Linked DNA regions of Homo sapiens. The protein of the gene in region 4 interacts with the protein of the main gene of each other region in a pairwise test. Each region holds a gene or a part of one and is shown on either strand. Other genes may lie near its edges.

Evidence for each region.
Region 1: the proteins of CFTR (region 4) and FHL2 interact in binary tests that used the Homo sapiens proteins (3 or more experiments, as listed by UniProt).
Region 2: the proteins of CFTR (region 4) and NOP53 interact in binary tests that used the Homo sapiens proteins (3 or more experiments, as listed by UniProt).
Region 3: the proteins of CFTR (region 4) and DDX20 interact in binary tests that used the Homo sapiens proteins (3 or more experiments, as listed by UniProt).

Annotation. Positions count from the first base shown.
Region 1 is NC_000002.12:105,385,552-105,389,051, reverse strand, and holds part of FHL2 (four and a half LIM domains protein 2), read left to right. Parts: intron 1-2,511; 5' UTR 2,512-2,535; coding exon 2,536-2,691; intron 2,692-3,152; exon of another isoform or gene 3,153-3,500. UniProt on the Homo sapiens protein: May function as a molecular transmitter linking various signaling pathways to transcriptional regulation. Negatively regulates the transcriptional repressor E4F1 and may function in cell growth.
Region 2 is NC_000019.10:47,752,046-47,755,545, reverse strand, and holds part of NOP53 (ribosome biogenesis protein NOP53), read right to left. Parts: intron 3,035-3,500; coding exon 2,939-3,034; intron 1,020-2,938; coding exon 915-1,019; intron 838-914; coding exon 655-837; intron 199-654; coding exon 23-198; intron 1-22. UniProt on the Homo sapiens protein: Nucleolar protein which is involved in the integration of the 5S RNP into the ribosomal large subunit during ribosome biogenesis. In ribosome biogenesis, may also play a role in rRNA transcription.
Region 3 is NC_000001.11:111,754,478-111,758,700, forward strand, and holds the start of DDX20 (probable ATP-dependent RNA helicase DDX20), read left to right. Parts: upstream 1-1,423; 5' UTR 1,424-1,447; coding exon 1,448-1,748; intron 1,749-2,168; coding exon 2,169-2,263; intron 2,264-4,223.
Region 4 is NC_000007.14:117,588,025-117,591,524, forward strand, and holds part of CFTR (cystic fibrosis transmembrane conductance regulator), read left to right. Parts: intron 1-2,328; coding exon 2,329-2,415; intron 2,416-3,500. UniProt on the Homo sapiens protein: Epithelial ion channel that plays an important role in the regulation of epithelial ion and water transport and fluid homeostasis. Mediates the transport of chloride ions across the cell membrane.

The DNA.
Region 1 (3,500 bases), on a different chromosome or scaffold from region 4:
TTTCCTTGCTTACAGTTGTCAGGATCGTGTATACGCAATAGTACAAAATTACTGTAATCACAAACCAGGCGGCAATATTTTATTTGCATCAGAAGGTCTGATTCTGGCATTTCACTCGCCTATCTTTTGAAGACTGCAAATTGAACCAAGTTTTCTTAGATCCTGTGAACTCTTGCTCAGAGTTACATAGCCAACCAGTGTACCTATTTTTTTTTTTTGAGACGGAGTCTCGCTCTGTTGCCCAGGCTGGGGTGCAGTGGTATCATCTCAGCTCACTGCAACCTCCACTTCCTGGGTTCAAATGATTCTCCTGCCTTAGCGTCCTGAGTAGCTGGGATTACAGGCATGTGCCAGTAAGCCCGGCTAATTTTTTTTTTTTTTTTGTATTTTTAGTAGAGACAGGGTTTCACCATGTTGGCCAGACTGGTCTCAAGCTCCCAACCTCAGGTGATCCACCTGTCTCGGCCTCCCAAAGTGCTGGGATTACAGGCGTGAGTGACTGCACCCAGCCCAGTGTACCTATTTAAGAACAGAGAAAACTTTCCACTTTTAGCAAATGGAATATTGCCATTTATTCCTGAAGAAAATTGTCTGTGTTTTTAATGCCCTATGGCCGTTTCTCCACACCAGCTATTCCTGTGGTAGGCTTTTTCTCTCCAGGATCATTCTAACATGATTTTATAGGAATGGTCATAAGAGGAGGGCCCATCACTTGCTGCTTATTCACACTGCGTATTCATCCTAGAAAAATGCAGTGTGCCGGGCATGGAGACCCCTTATTTTAAACTTTTATTTTAGGTTCGGGGTACATGTGCAGGTTTGTTATACAGGTAAACTCTTGTCACAGGGGTTTGTTGTACATATTATTTCATCACCCAGGTATTAAGCCTAGTACCCAAGTGTTATGTTTTCTGCTCCTCTCTCTCCTGCCATCCTCCCTCCCCGCTCAAGTAGACCCCAGCGTCTGTTGTTTACCTCTTTGTGTTCATGTGTTCCCTCATTTAGCCCTCACTTACAAGTGAGAACATGCAGTATTTGGCTTTCTGTTCCTGCATTAGTTTGCTAAGGATAATGGCCTCCAGCTCCATCCGTGTTCCTGCAAAAGACATGATCTCATTCTTTTTTGTGGCTGCATAGTATTTCATGATGTATATGTACCACATTTTCTTTATCCAATCTGTCATCGCTGGGCATTTAGGTTGATTCCATGTTGTCGGTATTGTGAAGAGTGCTGCAATGAACATTCATGTACATGTGTCTTTATGGTAGAATGATTTGTATTCCTCTGGGTGTATTCCCAGTAATGGGATTGCTGGGTCAAATGGTAGTTCTGTTTTTAGCTCTTGGAGGAATCACCATACTGCTTTCCACAAGGGTTGAACTAATTTACACTCCCACCCACAGTGTATAAATGTTCCCTTTTCTCTGCAACCTCGCCAGTGTCCTGTTCCTGTTGGAAGGGCTTGAGGTGTTGCCCAGAGAGCCACTGACTGCAGCCACTGCATTTCTGACTATTTGATATCATTGTTTTGGGAAGTGAGTCTTTCCATTTATCCTGCTCTCAGGGTACCTGGGCAGCTGCAGGATGATCTTACCCGCAGGGAGCAATGATTCATCCTCAGGGACTTTGGCAGTTTTTCTTGTGCAAGGGCAGCTTGCACTCCCAGGTCAAGGGTATTAGTGCCCTCATTGCATCTAATCTCAGGTTTCCCAGGTCAGATCTCCCTCCCTTTTGCCACTGTGATTTCTTCCTATTCAAATCATGAATCATAAAGAGGAGCTCACGGAAAATCTTTTTATAGAAATGGACGTATTATTTCTATGCCTGCCTTTCTATTTTGGAGGCAGGGAGAAGGGGAAGATGCAAGGCCGGGTCACAGCCGGACAGGATGGGGGCTCTGGTGTCAGCCCTTACCTGCATTTAAAACTGAGATAGCTTTTTCTGACACAGTAAAAAATAATTTGTGCTTTTCAAGAAGTGGAATGTGACCAGGCGTGATGGCTCACGCCTGTAATCTCAGCAGTTTGGGAGGCTGAGGTGGGCAGATCACCCGAGGTCAGGAGTTTGAGACCAGCCTAGCCAACATGGTAAAACCCTGTCTCTACTAAAAATATAAAAGTTAGCTGGGTGTGGTGGCAGGTGCCTGTAATCTCAGCTACTTGGGAGGCTGAGGCAGGAGAATCACTTGAACCTGGGAGGCGGAGGTTGCAGTGAGCCGAGATCGCACCACTGCACTCCAGCCTGGGCAAAAGAACAAGACTCTGTCTCCAAAAAAAAAAAAAAAAAAAAAAAAAGTGGAATGCATTCAAACACAAAACCGCCCTAGCTAATGAAAAAAGGTGTTATCATTAAAAATTATGACCGATTAAAGGGTGAGTTTTAATTATTCATCCAGAGGAATTAGCCACCTTTCGGCTAAAGATGACAGACAGTGGGACAGTTAATGCCTTTGCGTGCACCCCTTTCAGAGAGTGCTTAATGGGACTTGGATTTTCTTTTCTTTTTGATAGGTTGCTGAAAAGCCAGGAGTCAAAATGACTGAGCGCTTTGACTGCCACCATTGCAACGAATCTCTCTTTGGCAAGAAGTACATCCTGCGGGAGGAGAGCCCCTACTGCGTGGTGTGCTTTGAGACCCTGTTCGCCAACACCTGCGAGGAGTGTGGGAAGCCCATCGGCTGTGACTGCAAGGTACCTGCTGCGGGCCTCTGCGGGTCCCCGGCGCTCCCCTAGGAAACACGGGTTTCTCTGTGGTTTGTGCTGAAGCCCTGATCCACCACTGAAGTCTGTCTCTTGAGCCCCCTCTGAGGGGCGTGGACCCTGCGTGTAGCCTTTCGGAAGCTTCTTCCCTCTAGCGAATGTGATCTCTGCCCACAAGCACTGGGTGAGGGCCTTGCCAGGACTTTTGTGCTTAGTATCTCTAAGTACATTTTCTGTATTCTAGCAATTAGTGCCCTTATCTAACTACCCAGCTGCCTACCAATACTGGAACTTTCTTAAGGGTGGTGCTCTCTTCCTCTTGTCTGTTTGCCCCGTGGTGAGTAACGTGGAGCAGGTGCTGTGCTCAGTCAATATTTGATGAATGAATGTGTACATGAGAGAACCAGAGTTGGTTCCTGGATAAATGGGCACATAAAAGCACAAAGTCCTTGGAAGATTGTGAGCTCTTTTCCTTTAATGAGAGAAGGACAGGATTTGTATTGTTTCCTTTCAATGGGGAAATGTGTTCATGGCTCTCCTGGTATGTCACAGCGTGGTTCAGCAAAGACCACTGGTCACTTGTACCAACTGCCCCGTGGTTGAGGGTGGTGAACCCTGACCTGCGCTTCTCAGCAGACTCTTGTTCCAACCTGGATTGCTGAAGGACACCCTGGGGGACCCATCCATAGCTCTGAACTCTCTGATACCTTCACCCGCAAACGGCTTCTAAAACACTCCAGTGAAACCCCTCATGTGGCTGTCATCCTGAGTGCCGTGAAACTGGCTACAAAATGGGATTC
Region 2 (3,500 bases), on a different chromosome or scaffold from region 4:
GAACCCCCGGCCTGGTTCTCACTTGAGCCGCCCCAGCCTTCGGGGCTTGTCAGCCTCAGCCTCCCGCCGCGCCTGCCGCCGCCTCTGCCGCCGCGCCAGCTCCGCCAGCCTCAGGGCCACCTGGGCCTTGATCCCGCGCAGCCGGAACAGCTCCTGGTGCCGGAGCCGGGCGGCCCGCAACGCGGCCTGCTGTACCCGCTGTGGAGACGGGGGAGGGTCAGGGCTCAGGCCGGTGCTGCCCACACAGGGAGACCTTCTCTCTACACAGGGAGCCTTCCCTGCACAAACCTGCCTGTCCCCGGAGGCCCTTCCTAACCCCGTCACATCAGCGGCCCCTCCAGTGCCTTCCCAGCAGCTGTTTGCTGAAGCCCCTTTTGTCATCCATCTCCCCTGGTCTGCGGTGCAGAAACCTCCCCCCACCCCGCCCCTCAAACAGAAGCGCCAGGGACCCTGTCCCACCCCAGCCCGAGCCCTGCCTGGAAGAGGCTGGGAAATGAGTCTCAGCTGTGAGGATCCCAAACAGCCCAAACCACAGGCCACATGCGGGGCTTGGGGTGTGCAGGCTGCCCGCAGCACCCAGGGCAGCCCATGGTGGGAGGAAGGAAGGAAGGGGGCGAGGCATCAGAGGCAGGCCCCGCTGGCCCAGGCGCTCACCAGCCTGTGCACAGCCTTCTCCCGCCGCCGCTGCTGCTCCGTCTTCTTCTCTGTGGTGGCCAGGCGGGCGGGCGTGGGACAGACCTCGGCATCCCCAGCCTCCGGCCCCTCGCCCTGGCCTGGCTCCCCCTCACCATCCGACTCCTCCAGCAGCCCCTCGCACAGCTCCTGGAATGTGGACTCCTGGGGAGGCGGGGTGCAGTGTCAGGGGTGGGTAGGAGGCCCGGGGAGGGGAGGGAGTGGGCAGGTGCGGGGCTCACCTGGGTGGCGGCCTGCTCCGTGGCGGGCAGGGCCAGCTGCCGCTCCAGCTTCTCCGCCTCCTTCTGCCGCTGCAACTCCACCTCGTGGGCCGCTGAGAGCAGGGTCTGAGGGGCGGGAGTGAGGATGGGTCCCTGAACCCCTCCTGGGACACTGAGACTAGACCCTCTTACCTCCCATCTGTCCCTCATCCAGTGCCCGTGGATCCCGCCCCGGCCCAGGCTTTCCTCCCCACACCCCGTCTACCAGCACACCCACCCTGCACAGAGCCAGAGGGCACCTCAAACCCTCGCCCTCACACCTGCTCTGCACGTCTGTGAAGGCAGTCTGACCTGCACGCTTCACATTTTTTTTTTGAGATAGAGTTTCTGTCTTGTTGCCCAGACTGGAGTGCAATGGTGTGATCTCAGCTCACCACAACCCCCGCCTCCTGGGTTCAAGCGATTCTCCTGCCTCAGCCTCCCGAGTAGCTACTATTACAGGCATGTGCCACCATACCCGGCTAATTCTGTAACTTTAGTAGAGATGGGGTTTCTCCATGTTGGTCAGGCTGGTCTTGAACTCCTGACCTCAGGTGGTCCACCTACCTCGGCCTCCCAAAGTGCTGGGATTACAGGTGTGAGCCACCATGCCCGGCCCACAGTTTCATCTATGTGAATTGGTCAGGGTGGGCTGGTCCCTGAGACAGGAAGCCTGGCAGCCCAAGACCACACGAGACAGGGAATTGCGGGGGTGATGGCTGACATGTGTGAGGTTTCCTTTACGGACAGTGAAAATGTTCTAAAATTGACTGCGGGGATGGTTACACAATGGTCACTAAAAGCCACTGAATCACATACTCTAACTAGGCTGACCGTATGGTTAAGTGAATTTTATCTCTACGAAGTAGTTCTGTACAAATCTAAAAGTGAATGTCTGATCTCCACGCCCCCTCCCACATCTGGTCCAGGAACAGATGGCAGTGAGCGGCACCCTCACGCTTTCAACCATGAGCACACTGTTGCTTTTTTCCGCAGACACTTTTCTCTACCAGATGAGGAAGCTGCCTCTGTTCCTGGCTAGCTATCTCCTTCTTATGAATGCTGAAAACGATTCGGACAAGCGGTCCTGCATCTACCGCAAACATCTCAGCATCTCTCCAGTCACGTGACCCCATGAGAAGGGCTGTTCCTTGAGGGAGGGTTGTGCTTGTTTTTTGAGTCTCGCTCTGTTACACAGGCTGCAGTGCCGTGGTGCGATCATAGCTCACTGCAGCCTGGACCTCCTGGGCTCAAGCAATCCTCCCACCTCAGCCTCCCAAGCAGTTGGGACCACAGATGCGTGCTGCCATGCCCTGCTAATTTTCTGTATTTAGTAGAGACAGGGTTTCACCATGTTGGTCAGGCTGGTCTCCAACTCCTGACCTCCAATGATCTGCCCGCCTCAGCCTCCCAAAGTGCTGGGATTACAGGTGTGAGGCACCGCACCCGGCCAAGGGAGGGGTTTTTGTCCCCTTTGTCCACAGCATCTGTGCTCAACAGATGCCCGCTAAATGCACAGTGGCTCCAGCTAGACTTTCCCATCGCTGAGCTAGCCTCGCCCATATATAACTGTCACTTGGCTGCCAGTGTGCCACCGTGTCACCACAGCCTTTTTCATCTCTGCCCCACAGGCTTCCTGGAAGGCGCCACGGTCTCTCTCAACTCTGTGCCTTTGCAGTGCTGTTCCCACCACCTGGAAAACCCACTCCCCTCCTCCCACTGCAAACCCCTCCCTCAGCCTCTGCCTCGGCTCAGGCGACCCCTCCTCCCGGGAGCCCTTCCTGACCCCCCAGGCTGGGCCAGGTGCCCCGTCTGGGCTCCCAGCCCCAACCACTCTGCCCATCACTGTCTGGGAACAGGTCTCTTGCACTGGACCGTGAGCCCCGTTGCGGACAGGCCCAGGGCTGTCTGGGTCATTGGAGTTCCCAGCACAGGGAGGAAGCTAGTGAAGGCCTGACCAAGAGGCAGAGCCCACTGAGGAGGGAGGCCTGGACGGGGCAGTGTACCTGGTGGTCTTCAAAGGATGGATTGTAGGAAGCTCCGGCAGGCGCCACCTCCACGGCGGGTGCCTGGGACGGCTTGGTGTGCAGGCGTGCTGGCCGCTGTGGAGAAAAGGCCGAGGCAGGGTAAGGCCGTGCGTTGGGGCTGCGGGTGACCCAGGACACAGCCATGGGGCAGATGCTCCAGGCCTTGCCAGTGGTTGGGTGTGGGAAGAGCTCAAGGGGCATTCAGGTGACTCCAGAGCAAGACTCCATCTCAGAAAAAGGATAGCAGCCTATCCTCTGCTACCCACGAGGCTGAGCCCCGGAGATTGTAAGCACCTGGGCTCTAACACTTGGGGTCCAGCAGCTCAAGAAGGAGGCTGCAAATCCAAACTCAAACCCGTGACACTTCTGCCACTTGCCAGCACGGGCTCCACCTTCTCATGTGCTACCTCTTTACATTCTCCCCACCGACCCATGATCTAAGTACAATTTCATCTGTATTTTATTTTATTTTTTTTTTTGAGACAGAGTTTCGCTCTTGTTGCCCAGGCTGGAGTGCAGTGGCATGATCTCGGCTCACTGC
Region 3 (4,223 bases), on a different chromosome or scaffold from region 4:
GGCTTGGTTGCAGAATATATTTAAGTTTGGTATTCTTTGTATTTTTAAAAATTTGTTTACTTTTTAAGAATTTGAGACAGGGTTTCTGCATGTTGCCCAGGCTGGCAACTCCTGGCCTCAAGCAATCCTCCCGCCTCAGCCTCCCAAGAAGCTGGAATCACAGGTGCGAGCCACCCCACACAACTAAATTTGGAATTATGAATATGGCTGAGGTCCAGAAATATTTAAATTTGGCATGATGACTAAGAGTTTGTTATAGGAGCTCAATCATTTGATAAATATTGAACATTTCCTATGTGTCAGATTGTTTTTCCCACTAGGGATGCAGAGGAGAACAAGACAGAATAGGTTCTTGTCCTCATAGAGTGTGGGAGACAGGCAGAAGACATATAATTTCAGGTAGGTATAAGTATCATAAAGAAAAAATAAAGCAAAACAAGAGAGTGCTGGGAAAGGCCAGGGAGCAGAGAGGATGACAGAGCTGTCTTAGGGTGTTCAAGACCTCTTTGAAAAGCTGATATTTGAGCAGAAGACCACAGCAAGGAAAAGTGGCAGAGACTGCTAGCTGCCTACGCATGAAATGATGGGGGAAGGAGCAATACAGAAGGCATGTAACATTTGAGAGTCTATTAGGCATCCCAAGGGAGGTGCTGCGGAGGCGGATGCATGGAGGCGGATGCGGAGGCGGATGCATGGAGGCGGATGCATGGAGGCAGATGGATGCACACGTCTAGAGTTTAAAAGGAGATCTGAGGCGGAGATACGAACTTGGGAGCTGTTAGTCCAGTTCCAGGTTCCAATTCAACGTACTTTTATCAGAGCTCACTGTGCGCCAGGGACTTGCTAGGAGATAAATGGGGTTTATCTCACCGGAGATAAATGTGGTTGCACAGCAGATGGACACACCAGCCAATGTGGTAAATAAACCCTTGGGTCCAGCTACGTTCTGCGCGCTCTCTGCCAGCACAGAGGAGCAGCGAGTCAGGGTACGGAGCGGGTAGCGTTGGGGAAGAGGTGGCCGCGAAGCGAGACAGGCCAGCGGAACGGAAAACGGAAGCACGAGACGGGGGCGTGACGCACCGGGCGCATCACAAAGAACGGCGAGAGGGCGGTGGCGCCGGGGGCACGGCTGGGCGGCTCCGCCCAGAAGAGGGCCGAGAGGCGGGGCGGTGCCCCCACCGCAGGCCCGCGGCGCCCTCTGCAGGCCACAGGCAGCGACTCACCAGTTGCCTCATCTTTCCTCTCCTCCCTCTTGGGGCTTTCCTCAGGCCACATTTTTTGTGTGTCTGGGCAGTCTCTCAGCCTCCGACTCCCGTCCCTTTCTTCCACTTCCAGGCCGGGCGTGTTAGTGTCTTCGCGGGAAAACTGCCAATAAAGTTTTTCTTCTTCTCGCTCCCAAGATCCCCGCCTCCCCTTAAGCACCGCGAGATCTGACGGCGCGGCTACCATGGCGGCGGCATTTGAAGCCTCGGGAGCCTTAGCAGCAGTGGCGACTGCTATGCCGGCTGAGCATGTGGCCGTGCAGGTCCCGGCCCCAGAGCCAACACCCGGGCCTGTGAGGATCCTGCGGACCGCTCAGGATCTCAGCAGCCCGCGGACCCGCACGGGGGATGTGCTGTTGGCGGAGCCGGCCGACTTCGAGTCACTGCTGCTTTCGCGGCCGGTGCTGGAGGGGCTGCGGGCGGCCGGCTTCGAGAGGCCCTCGCCGGTGCAGCTCAAGGCCATCCCGTTGGGGCGCTGCGGGCTCGGTGAGAGCGGGGGCCCGGGATAGGTCGGGGGGTGGGGTGGGAGAAGGGGGACCGACGGGCGGCGGCGGCCAGGCCCGCGCCGCAGCTCAGGAAGAGCCCTCGGTCGGCCCCCGGAGCAGGGCCCTGCCGGGGGCTAGGCGCTACGCTCAGTTAACTTATTTGTAAAACTAACGTGCACTATTGAACTTGAGGATAGTTAAGACCTTTTTTTAAGCACTGACAAATGGTTCTAAGTTTGAGAAGATAAACGGTAAACGTTCAGGGACTAGGCGTGTTCTCATACGTTTTTGAGAATCAACTAAAAATGAAGGTGCCAACTAGGGGAATCTCAGGAGACCCTTCTAGTTCTCTGATTCCATGTTAGCCCCTAAGTTGCTTCAGTGAGTACTGGCTAGTGATAATTGTTTTTTTCCTTCGCAGATTTAATTGTTCAAGCTAAATCTGGCACCGGGAAAACCTGTGTGTTCTCCACCATAGCTTTGGACTCTCTTGTTCTTGAAAACTTAAGTACCCAGGTGAGTTAGCTGAGAGGACCAGAGGAGGATGTGTTTTGTGGACTTTACCACAGGTCAGATGAAATACCAGTAGCTCCTCAGAGCTGGAAGTGAATTTGATGAATGATTGAGTTAAGTGGTGGTGGTGGCGAAATTTGGAATTTTCTATGCGTACCTTATTTAAATAGAATAAAGCTACCATATATGTCAATTTTGTCACTACTTGGTAATACAGACAGGGATTCTTCTTTTACTTACTGACTAGATTAATGTGAGACTTAACATTTGACTTGATTCATGGTAATGTAGTGCTCTGGCTATTGTTGGTAACTGCAGAGTTTGTTTTTTTTTTTTGAGACGGTGTCGCTTTGTCACCTAGGCTGGAGTGCAGTGGCGGATCATTGCTCACTGCAACCTTGAACTTCTGGGCTCCAGTGATCCTCCCACCCATCTTCCTAAGTATTTGGGACTACAGGTGTGTGCCACCACACCTGGCTAGTTCTTGTATTTTTTGTAGAGATGGGGTCTCCAGTGTTGCACAGACCAGCCTTGAACTCCTGGGTTCAAGCAATCCTCCCACCTTTGCCTCCCAAAGTACTGGGATTACAGGCATGAGCCACCACAGCCGGTATGCAGGTGGTTCTTAAAGCTCTGTAAATGTATCATATTGATCTCCCATCTTCCAGGTTGTCTTAGAGTGTTTCTAAGATTGCCTTACCCAAATTAGCAGGAAATTTGAGTTTGGGGATCATTTCTCCAACAAAGGTTTGTTGAGTCCGTATTACGTATAAACAGTGTGCCAGGCATTGGGGATTCAAAGATGAATTAGATGTGATTCTCATAGCCTTACTTGGTAGTTTAGTTGTTATGGCAGACTGTATTTCAAGTTCTCAGGCATTGGTATATCTGATGATGAATCTTCAACAGTGGTTTTTAACCCAGATATCCATGTTCATCACCTGGGAAGCTTTTTGAGTCCATCTTATGTCTACCAAATCCTAGGTGATGTTGCACATTGGAAATCCTCCTACTTCCCAAGAACCTGAGTTAGTCTAATTGTAGACTAAGATGTATTTGAGATTTTGGCTTCTGACAATTTGGCAGCAGATAAAATGCTGAAATCCTGGAAAAGTTTCATCAACTCATTTTTTTTTGAGACCGAGTCTCACTCTGTTGCCCAGGCTGGAGTCAGTGGCACAATCTTGGCTCACTGCAACCTCTGCCTCCCAGGTTCAAGTGATTCTCCTGCCTCAGCCTCCCGAGTAGCTGGGATTACAAGTGTGCACACCACACGCCCGGCTAATTTTTTTGTATTTTTAGTAGAGACGGTGTTTCGCCATGTCGGCCAGGCTGGTCTCAAACTCCTGACCTCAGGTAATCCACCTGCCTCAGCCTCCCAACATGCTGGGATCACAAGTGTGAGCCACCATGCCCGGCAAATTCATATTTTTAATTTCAGATCTTTGGATTATGAAAATTACATTATTCTCTGTGTGTGTATCAAAGTAATACATATTCATTTTTAGAAATAGGGAAAATTCAGAAAAATTAGGACGTACCAGAAAACAAAATCTGTAATCTTACTACCTAGAGAGAAACTGCTATTAACAGTTTTGGCATGTTTTCTCCTAGTCCTTTTTTTTTTTTTTTTTTTAAATCAATTTTTTTTTCTTGTAGTTAAGAGCACAAAGTTTTGTTTTCTCCTCCTCCAGTAGTTACATTGCAAAGTTTTTACCATGACTCTCAAGGTCTTTTGTGATCTAGTCCCTGGAGGTAGATCTCTGACCTCCTTTACTTTCCCCTGAATTCTGTCATGTGGGCCTTCTTTTTCTTCCTCAAATACACCAAGAACACTGCCATCTTATGGCCTTTCCATTTGCTGTTTCCTCTTGGTGAAAACGCTTCCCCAGGGGTCATATAGCCAGCTCTACTCTATGCCATTCACGTAGGTCTCTGCTCAAAGTACCTCCTTTGAGGAGGT
Region 4 (3,500 bases):
TTATGGTTACTCAGAATCTGTGCCCGTATCTTGGTGTCAGTGTATTTGTTTGCCTCATAGTATAGTTTACTACAAATGGAAAACTCTAGGATTCTGCATAATACTGGACAGAGAAGATGTAAATATCTGTTAGTTCCATCATAGACCCTGCCACTCCAATGTACACACCAGCTTTAGGCTTCTTGGTATAGATAAACATACATTTTCAAAATTTTTCATCATAATTTTCATAACAAAATAGGAAGGCAAATGATGTCACTTGGCTTAAAATCTATAATATTTAAAATAAACAGGACAAATGCATTAACATTGTTGGGGGAGGAGGTCCCTTAGTAGAAACACTCTTGGTCCAAGCATTTTAAAGCTGTCAAAGAGATGTAAATATAGATAATGTATGTCAAGGAGAGAGCTTTGTGGTTAAACTGTAACTTTCAGTTTAAACAATTATTGGTGACTCTGATGTCAAATGTTTCTCAAGCTTTATCTGAACAAAATTCTTCTCACTTTGTTGCCAAAGTCGTTAACAAGAAATCACATTGACTCATTGATGTTTTGGCTCCTTTCCCTTACTTTCTGTTGCTTTCCAAAAGCTGAGACAGGAAACTAACCCTAACTGAGCACCTGCAATTGCCTGGTAGTATTCTAGTCATGTGTGTACTTTTGTGTGTATGTAATCCCCTTACAGCTCTGCAAAGTAAGAATTGTTCTCCCTGCTTTACAGAAGAGATCATAAGATAATTGAGGCTGTTAGATGTTAACTTGCCAAAAGCCATACAGGAAAATGGTAGAGTCACAGTTTGAACCAGGTCCTTTTGATTCTTTACATTAAACCATGCTTTGATCTTGGAAATACACTGTAAGGCAATAAATCAATAGATACGGATAATTCACAGGCTTCTAAATAAATGGAAGTTGATTGTTTTTATCTGTGAGCCAAAGTAAGACTTATTCTAAGAATTCCACAAATTTAGATAAGATAGAGTATATGGCTTCTAGACATCCAACATAGAACTGAGTTTGTGTTATCAGTTTAAGATTTGGTTTTGCTGTAAGGTGCACACACTTTGAGGAACTAAAAATAATTGTCTGTTCTTATTCTGATCAGAATGTGTAATGTGTTGTCCAGTTTTGGATGATGAATTTCTTATTTCTAATCTCATAAGAAACTTGTCATAGATGTGAGGGAGAGAATTAAGAACAGAGTGTGGGGAAGAAACTGTGTACATTTTGATGGGATCCATTATGTAGCTCTTGCATACTGTCTTCAAAAATAAGTTACACTATAAAGGTTGTTTTAGACTTTTAAAGTTTTGCCATTGGTTTTTAAAAAAATTTTTAAATTGGCTTTAAAAATTTCTTAATTGTGTGCTGAATACAATTTTCTTTATTACAGAAGTACCAACAATTACATGTATAAACAGAGAATCCTATGTACTTGAGATATAAGTAAGGTTACTATCAATCACACCTGAAAAATTTAAATGTTATGAAGAAATTATCTCATTTCTATTAATATGGGAACTGTGTCTTCATCTTTATTACTGTTCTAAGGTCAACTCAATGTAGATTTTACTTGCTTATGGTTTCATATTTTAGCTAAATAGTAAAATAATATGGATATACATTTTGTTGTGACTTACTCATACTTTCCTTATTTGGAACTTTTATGAATATGATATAGAGACTGAAACTACAAGGAACAAAATGCAATATCAATTATACAGTTGTGGCAGCACTGCTATCAATTTGTTGATAGTGGTTAACACTTAGAAAAACATTTTAAAAATAATTTCACATAAGTAATGTAATTTATTAGCTGTCTCTGACATTTTACAGTTTGGAATAGTTTATTTTCTTTTTGGTGTCCTCACCAAAACCCAACATCTTCAAGGGCAGGAACTGTATAATTTTTGCCATTGTATTTTGAGCACATAGCATGGTACTTGCCTCTAAATAGATACTATTGTTAAAATATTTTTTAAGGTAATATTTTAAAGTGTATGCTATGGTACAGTTCAGTTTGTGACTTTTGCTAGTTTATGCCACTTACAGTTAGCAAAATCACTTCAGCAGTTCTTGGAATGTTGTGAAAAGTGATAAAAATCTTCTGCAACTTATTCCTTTATTCCTCATTTAAAATAATCTACCATAGTAAAAACATGTATAAAAGTGCTACTTCTGCACCACTTTTGAGAATAGTGTTATTTCAGTGAATCGATGTGGTGACCATATTGTAATGCATGTAGTGAACTGTTTAAGGCAAATCATCTACACTAGATGACCAGGAAATAGAGAGGAAATGTAATTTAATTTCCATTTTCTTTTTAGAGCAGTATACAAAGATGCTGATTTGTATTTATTAGACTCTCCTTTTGGATACCTAGATGTTTTAACAGAAAAAGAAATATTTGAAAGGTATGTTCTTTGAATACCTTACTTATAATGCTCATGCTAAAATAAAAGAAAGACAGACTGTCCCATCATAGATTGCATTTTACCTCTTGAGAAATATGTTCACCATTGTTGGTATGGCAGAATGTAGCATGGTATTAACTCAAATCTGATCTGCCCTACTGGGCCAGGATTCAAGATTACTTCCATTAAAACCTTTTCTCACCGCCTCATGCTAAACCAGTTTCTCTCATTGCTATACTGTTATAGCAATTGCTATCTATGTAGTTTTTGCAGTATCATTGCCTTGTGATATATATTACTTTAATTATTATTATACTTAACATTTTTATTTACTTTTTGTGTTAGTATTTTATTCTGTCTTCTCCTTAGATAGTAACCTTCTTAAGAAAATATATATGCTAAGTGTTTTACTGGTTTAATATGCTTAGACTACTCATCTACCTCAATACTTCCTTGGAGATCTCCTCCTCAGTCACACAGAGCTCAGGACTTATATTTCCTTGGAACTCCTGTTAGGGTCCAATGTACATGAAATTCCCTAGACAGACAGACAGTCAGTTATATGGCTTGATTTCAAAGTTTCAAAATGATTTAATGGACTATCAAGTAGTTTATTAGGAGAACAGTTATTATACTCTTCTAAAAATAAAGACTTTAAGCAATAAAGATGTATATGTATATAAAATGGCTGGGTTATTCCTAGAAGTACCTTTCTTAGAATTTAGTTAAATTTAATATCCAAGATACTATCTTTTCAACCCTGAGATTGTGAAAAGTAACTTCTATCAATATAAACTTTACTACATTTGTATTGTGTTAGTGTGTTACAGTATAATCTAGAACAATGTGTCTTTCTATATGATATATGACATTTTAATGCCTAAAAAAACTGATATGTCTTAGATGATTCTAGTCAGGATTTACTTCTAGAATAGATTAAAATTCTATTTGAGGAGAGTCAAATTAATTATCGAATTCTCAGTTGTTATTATTGCTGTTTTATTTTTAGTGAAACAGATTAGTCTTAATGTAAACACTTGAGAAATAAATTGATGGTCAACCTAAAATGTAAAAAAGAAATTAAT